Homo sapiens: one gene and its partner. The protein of the gene in region 2 purifies or fractionates together with the protein of the main gene of each other region. This does not show direct contact. Each region holds a gene or a part of one and is shown on either strand. Other genes may lie near its edges.

Region 1 (3,500 bases), on a different chromosome or scaffold from region 2:
CTCCCAAAGTGCTGGGATTACAGGCGTGAGCCACCGCGCCCGGCTCCAGTCTTGATTTAATTGTGGCACTTCCTATAATCTACCTAGTCCAAAACAACAACAAAAAATTTCAAAGTTCAGTACAGTTCCCCATGAAATGAAAGTTGCATCAGTGGCTATCAAGAACTCAAAAGAAAATACAAACATTAAGTCTGGCAAGGATTTATTAGGAAGCTTATTAGTCACAGTGAATAAAAGCCATGAAAAGAAGAACTCAAATCTCCAAATTCTGGCATCGGACTTACAACACTAGTTAGAAGCTAATAAACATTAAGGAATTTCCAAGGGGAATCTTAACTAAGTCTCAATCTTACTGACCAGATTACCCACACACATAGAAATGATCCCCATGCTCTCCCCAGACTGCTTAGCTAGGCAGTGGAAAAGACCTTCTCCCCAAGCTTAAGCTATCACGCATCAGCAGGAGACTCCTGTCCTTCTAGCTATAACCACAGGACACATGTGCGTGACAGACAACTCCAAGCTGGGCAACTTGACAAGAATGCTGAACAATGAGAGGGGAAAGGAGCAAGCAGGAACAAGTGTTTTAGTTGGAGACCCTCCTGATGGCTACTACTAACACAATCCGGAGGCATCAGAAAGTTTCCTATAGCCCACAAATAGTTTCCTTTAAAAAAACAAAAACAAAAACAAAAAAACAAGTCACACAACAATCTTGCCACAAAGCAACATGACACTTGGAATCACATGGCCACATTAACTGGAAAAGCAAGTGTTACCCATGACTGCCAGATGCCACCCAGCCCAAGACCCAATTTCCACAGCGCCCTAGAGAACCACGATGGTCCCCTGGCACCTACACAACCCTCCCAGTGGTGTCGTATCTTCCGTAGGCCAGGTTTCTGCAGCAAGCCCCAAAGACAAAGCTTGGCAGAGGCTGTGGCAGCCAACTCTCTCTGGAGCCTCATCCCTTTGTCCTTCCCAACAGGTAGTCGTACATCTTCACTGACACAGCGCCTCTATGGGAGCCTTGGCCAGCCCTTAGGAAATAAAGTGTGTCTGTGGGGTAACCTGATGGACCCTATGGTCTGCTGGGTTGGCAGATGCTTCGTAATTGCAGATGGTCACCTCGTGTCGGCGAAGCTGCAAGAAAATTGAGGCTGGGTCAGCCAGCCATTAAAAGAACTGTCCTTTCCCACACCACACACATTGCGGTAGTCCTTATTCAGGTTCATTTCTAGGAGTCATCATTTAATATCTCCTTATTTTAATACTTAGATGTCATCATCTAATATCTCCCAATTTTGATACTTTTTAACTCCAGAAAGCTGCAAAGATCATTATCATTGATTCACCCTGTAACTTTGAAGATTCAGTCTCCCTACTATAATGGGGGTACCATGAGAATAGGAACTTGTCTATGGTATTATCTTATCCCTGGTTCATGAATAGAAAAGATTATCAAAAATACTCAATGAAAGCATTTGAAAGTAGAAAACTGTGAATTAATATAAATGACAATTTCAGGCTGGGCAAGGTGGCTCACACCTGTAATCCCAACATTTTGGGAGGCTGAGATGGGCAGATCACCTGAGGTCAGGAGTTCGAGACCAGCCTGGCCAACATGGTGAAACCCTGTCTCTACTAAAAATACAAAAAAATTAGCCAGGCGTGGGAGTGGGCACCTGTAATCCCAGCTACTTGGGGGGCTGAGGCAGGAGAATCACTTGAACCTGGGAGGCGGAGGTCGCAGTGAGCTGAGATATATATATATATATTATATATATTATTTATATAAAAATAACAGTTTCAACCCCCTTAAAAATACCTGTAGTTTCTCAAATGAGACGAAAAGTTTATACTGATAAAACCAAGAAAAATAATAAACTGGGAGTAATTATGACACTTGCTCTTTTCCCTTCCCTGGAAGCTCCCATCACCACAGTGTGCAGATATGTAGACATGAGGGGAAAACCTTTCCAACCCCATCTTACCTCAGTCCACTCTCCTCTCAGGCCAATATAAAAGACCTTTGTCGTATCTGCTCCGAAGTTTTTTGAAATATGAATTGAGAGATGATAGACATTTGAAAAACGAGAAATTCTAGAGGATGACAGGAATAGGGAAAGAAGGTATGAATTATAGTTCAATGAGTATCTCACCACCATGTGAAACAACAATTCAGCTCCAGCTTGTAAAAGCCAGGCAAAGTCAGAGCTCCTGAGTTCTTCCTTCTCCTTTGGACAGGCAATTAATTCAATGACCATTTACTGAGCACCTGCCAGATCCTGTCCAAGGCAGTAGGGATAAACACTGCTCCTGCCCTCAAGGAACAGGAATGAGAAATGCTGCATAACCCAGCAGGGATTCTAAAGCACATTTAGTGTTAACCTAAACTAATGGGAGACACATCTTTCCTAAAACCACCCTAGGAGTTCATTCAGATCTGCCAATTGCTTGCAAGTTAACAAGTCTGTGGCTTGCACTGAATCTCTGCCAAAAACTGACCAAGCCAAAGATCAAGTCTCCTCCACTGTTTTAACTCATTTCCAATGCTAAGAGAGCAGGAGACTGGCCAAAAATAAATGGCAAGCCCTATAAGAAGCCATAGAGAATGGAAGACAGGCCCAGTGCTTACTTTGTAGCATACTCTAATTCTCCTGTAAGATCCCGGTTCAGACTAAAGGTCTGATCTGGCTCCCTTTCTGTATCATCAAAGGACATCTGTGGAATATTCTTGTACCTGAGAAAGGAAAGGAAAGAAAAGTCAAGAAATGTGCATTATCACGTTTCAGGTTTTCAAAATTTTCTACTGACTGCTTAAATGGCTTTGGTTCTATCAATAGGAGACTGAATTTGGGGGTCATATTTTAGAAATGACATTTTATACAAGTATCTCCAAATATCTTTTTTTTTTTTTTTTTTGAGACAGAGTCTCACTGTGTCACCCAGGCTGGAGTGCAATGGTACAATCTCAGCTCACTGCAACCTCCACCTCCCAGGTTCAAGTGACTCTCATGCCTCAGCCTCCTGAGTAGCTGGGACTACAGGCGTACGCCACCATGCCCGGCAAATTTTGGTACTTTTAGTAAAGACAGGGTTTCACCATGTTGGCAATGCTGGTCTCTAACTCCCAACCTCAGGTGATCCGCCTACGTCGGTCTCCGAAAGTGCTGGAATTACAGGCATGAGCCACCGCGTCTAGCCTACAAATATCTTTAATCCAACAAAAAAAGAGCTGAGATCTGCAACATAACCCCATGGCATCTTTGAGTGGGTTAATATCACATGAGAAGCAATACACAAAGAGACGGCTCAAACTAGGTCACATGCAGCAAATGCATGGAGAAAATAAACAACTCAGCACATTCAGACCAAACTGAGGATGTTATTAAATAAAACAGCTTACTCATGGGAAAAATACATACTTTGGCAGAAACATATTACACACAGTTAAGAGATAAAAGATCAGGTAACCCAATGCTCAAGCATTTTTTTGT
Region 2 (3,500 bases):
CCTCCCGGGTTCAAGCGATTCTCCTGCCTCAGCCTCCCAAGTAGCTGGGACTACAGATGCCCGCCACCATGCTAGGCTAATTTTTGAATTTTTAGTAGAGACGGGGTTTTCCTATGTCAGCCAGGCTGGTTTCGAATTCCTAACCTCAGGTGATCCGCCCGTCTTGGCCTCCCAACGTACTGGGATTACAAGGGTGAACCACAGCGCCCGGCCCTCCACTCCTCTTTCTTATCTCCCTCCTCAGCCTCCGCCCCTCCCAGCTTCTGATGTGTCCCTGGGTCCTGGTACCCAGGAAGCCGCCCCCCACCCCACCCCCTAGGTGGCCCTTGGCGCCCCCAGGCAGTCCTGCCCTGACCTGGACCACCGCTGCGCTCACCTTGGGCTGGAAGGGGCTGGGTCCCCAGTCCCCCTCCTTGGCCGCACACCCACTCAGGGCAGCACTTGCCCAGGACCTCGACCCTCCTGGGGTGGGGGCAGTCCCAGCTGGGCAGCCGCACATCCTCGCTGCACAGCGGCACGCAGGTGAAGCCGCCGTCCTCGCAGCGGCAGCGGATGCTGCAGTGGGGCTGGAAGGTCTCCCCTTCCCGATACAGGCGGCCGTTCACCTCACAGCTGCTGTCGTCCTCTGCCACTGCGGAGGAAAAACCGCACCCCCATCGGTGACCCGCAAAGCGGCACAGCCTTCTCTGCAGAGCTGCCCAGATCCCGCTGCCTGAGGCAGCTGCCTCACAGTAGCTGGGCCCTGCCCAGGGCTCCAGCCCAGGATATGCACCTCTCCCCAGCCCTCCACCAGCCTGCTGGGGCACCCTGGATCCCGGCACAGGGATTGCAAGAAGACAGGCCTGGATTGACCCCCCAAACTCTGCCCTTTCTTAGCTGTGAACCTGGGCCAAGTGATTTCACTTCTTCTTGCCTCAGTTTCCACATTTGCAAGCTGGGATATAATGGTACTTATTTTCCAGGGTGGTAGAGACTACTCGGAATGATAGGCGTAATGATCACAACATAAAAGAGACCTTCCATAGGTCCTAGCTACTCTGTTATTATCATTAGTATAGTTACTATATATTAATAAAGTTTAAGTATTCTATACACGCTGAGATTTCATGCAACAAAGTCGTTGTCCACTTGTGCTGTCATCACTGTCAGGTCAGGGCTTAACTTGCTGGCTGTGTGTCTTTGAGTAAGTTACTTAACTTCTCTGAGTGGCCTGAACTACAGCAATGATGAGCTCAGTAATCGTAACTTCAGGTTCCATGGGATGACATGTCCGTACCCTCTAGCACACAGTGCTAGGCATGGCCTAGGTGCTCAGGGAACACTCTTTCAATGAAGCCCTCAAGATATGGGTGTTATTGCCACTTCCTCCACTGGACATGAACTCCTTGAGGGCTGGGGCGGCCAGTGTGCGTCTCTGCACCCTCCGGTGGGCTCAGAGCCTAGGTGCGACACACAGTACTGTAGGAATGCCCCTTCAGTGAATAGCTGGCATAAGCCTTGGCACATGAGAGACCCTGATAAAATAGCCCTACTCCTTATCATTCCAGAGATATTTACTGTTTCCCGCCTGTGTGCCAACCACTGTGCTCCCAGACAGAAAGAGGACAGTTCCTGCCTTGAGGGACTCATGGGCTTGGGAAAGGGGGACGGGTGTGAGGGCATCATCTCCAAGACAGAATGAAGTAAGAGCGCTGGTGAAGCGTGTGAGCTGCTCAGGAAGTGCAGACGGGAAACAGCGTGTGTGTGAGACCTGGGTGGCCACTGAGCTACGTCTGGGGAAAGGACTCATTAGCAAACAAGTTCTCCCAGATCTTCTGAGAAAACCTTCCAGTAGGTCTGTACACACACAGGGGTTTCAGAACCAAAACCACACATACTTAGGTTCCAACTCTGGCTCCCACTTGTGGGGCCTGGGGCAAGTTATTTTGCCTCTCTGAGCCTTGGTACCCGGCTCACAGGGCTGCTGGGGGATTAGATGAGCTAGGGGACTTACAGCATTTTGCCCCAAGCCTGGCACATAGCAGATGCTCAATAAACAGGAGAGGGTTATGCTTCCACGTAGCATCTGCTATGTGCCAGGCTTGGGGCAAAATGCTGTAAGTCCCCTAGCTCATCTAATCCTCCAGCAGGGAAGGCCTTGCTGAGAAATAATGCTGGTAGAGGGAACAGCCAGTGCAAAGGCCCTGAGGCACGAGTGTGCCTGGGGTATTTAAGGAACAGCAAGGGGCCAATGTGGCTGGAGCAGAGAGCAGGAGGAGAGGAGGTCAGAGAGGAAGCATGAACAGGATCCTGTTGGGGCCTTGTAGGCCACTGTGGGGACTTTGGCTTTTCCTCTGAGATGGGAAGCCACCAGAAGGCTTGGGGCAGAGGAGGGAGGTGATCTGGCTTATGACTTCCCAGGAGCTCTCTGACTGCTGTGTTGTGAATAGACCAGGGGCAACGACAGAAGGAGGGAGATGATTATGGGGCTACTGCAAAATCCAGGCCAATGATGACGGGGCTCAGACCAGAAGGGATGGGAGTGTCGGATGCTGGAAATACACGATGAATTTGCTGGTGGGTGGTATGTGGGAGGTGAGAAAAGAGAGATGTCTAGACCGGCTGTGGTGGCTCATACCTATAATCCCAGCACTTAGGGAGGCCGAGGCGGGTGGATCACTTGAGGTCAGGAGTTCCAGACCAGCCTGGCCAACATGGTGAAACCCCGTCTCTACTGAAATACTAAAATACAAAAATTAGCGAGGCATGGTGGTATGTGTCTGTAATCCCAGCTACTTGGGAGGCTGAGGCGTGAGAATCGCTTGAACGCAAGAGATGGGGTTACAGTGAGCTGAGATCCTGCCACTGCACACCAGCCTGGGTGAAAGAGTGAGACTCCATCTCAAAAAAAAAAAAAAAAAAAAGAGAGAGAGATAGAGAGACCTCTAGAACGACTCCCAGGTCTTGAGTCTGAGCCATGAGAAGGATGGAGGTGCTCTCAACAGACTGGGGAGGCCGTTCTGGGGGGCGGAAGATCAGGATCCCGGCATTGGATGCGCTGTTATCACGATGGTGAATCTGCAGCACATCTCACAGCTCAGAGTTGGCCCTTAGAGAAGAGCGTTCAACGAGTAAGTGATGGGAGAGGTTTTTGGCAGTATGTTCCCTGCAAAGCCCTAGACTGAGCCTTTGTGATGTCTTAGCTGGACTCTTTGGGGTTCACCAGTTCCCGGCCTCTAAATTCAGTTTAAATCATTAAACACTGTTGAGCACCCATCATGTTGACAGACCAAGGTGGGAAGTTGCAGGAAGGACCAGGGACCCAAGTACGCCTTTGGCCTGCAGGTGTTTGAAGTCTGAATTAAGATGGAATAAGAAAAATCCCTTAATACAGTTATTAACAATCACAGCCTATGTACTAATCAACTGCTGCATGTCAGGCAGTTGAGCAATGGAGCTTGTGGAGCCAGCTCCCTGAGTTCAAATCTCAGCTCTGCCGCTTATGAGCTGTGTGACCTTGG

Evidence for each region. The genes of interacting proteins can lie anywhere in the genome.
Region 1: the proteins of CCN5 (region 2) and PITHD1 purify together in Homo sapiens (affinity purification with mass spectrometry, with the first as the bait; one large-scale study listed by BioGRID). This does not show direct contact.

Annotation. Positions count from the first base shown.
Region 1 is NC_000001.11:23,784,918-23,788,417, reverse strand, and holds the end of PITHD1 (PITH domain-containing protein 1), read right to left. Parts: intron 2,744-3,500; coding exon 2,639-2,743; intron 2,104-2,638; coding exon 1,995-2,103; intron 1,144-1,994; coding exon 1,042-1,143; 3' UTR 186-1,041; downstream 1-185. UniProt on the Homo sapiens protein: Promotes megakaryocyte differentiation by up-regulating RUNX1 expression.
Region 2 is NC_000020.11:44,721,869-44,725,368, reverse strand, and holds part of CCN5 (CCN family member 5 isoform 1 precursor), read right to left. Parts: intron 632-3,500; coding exon 377-631; intron 1-376.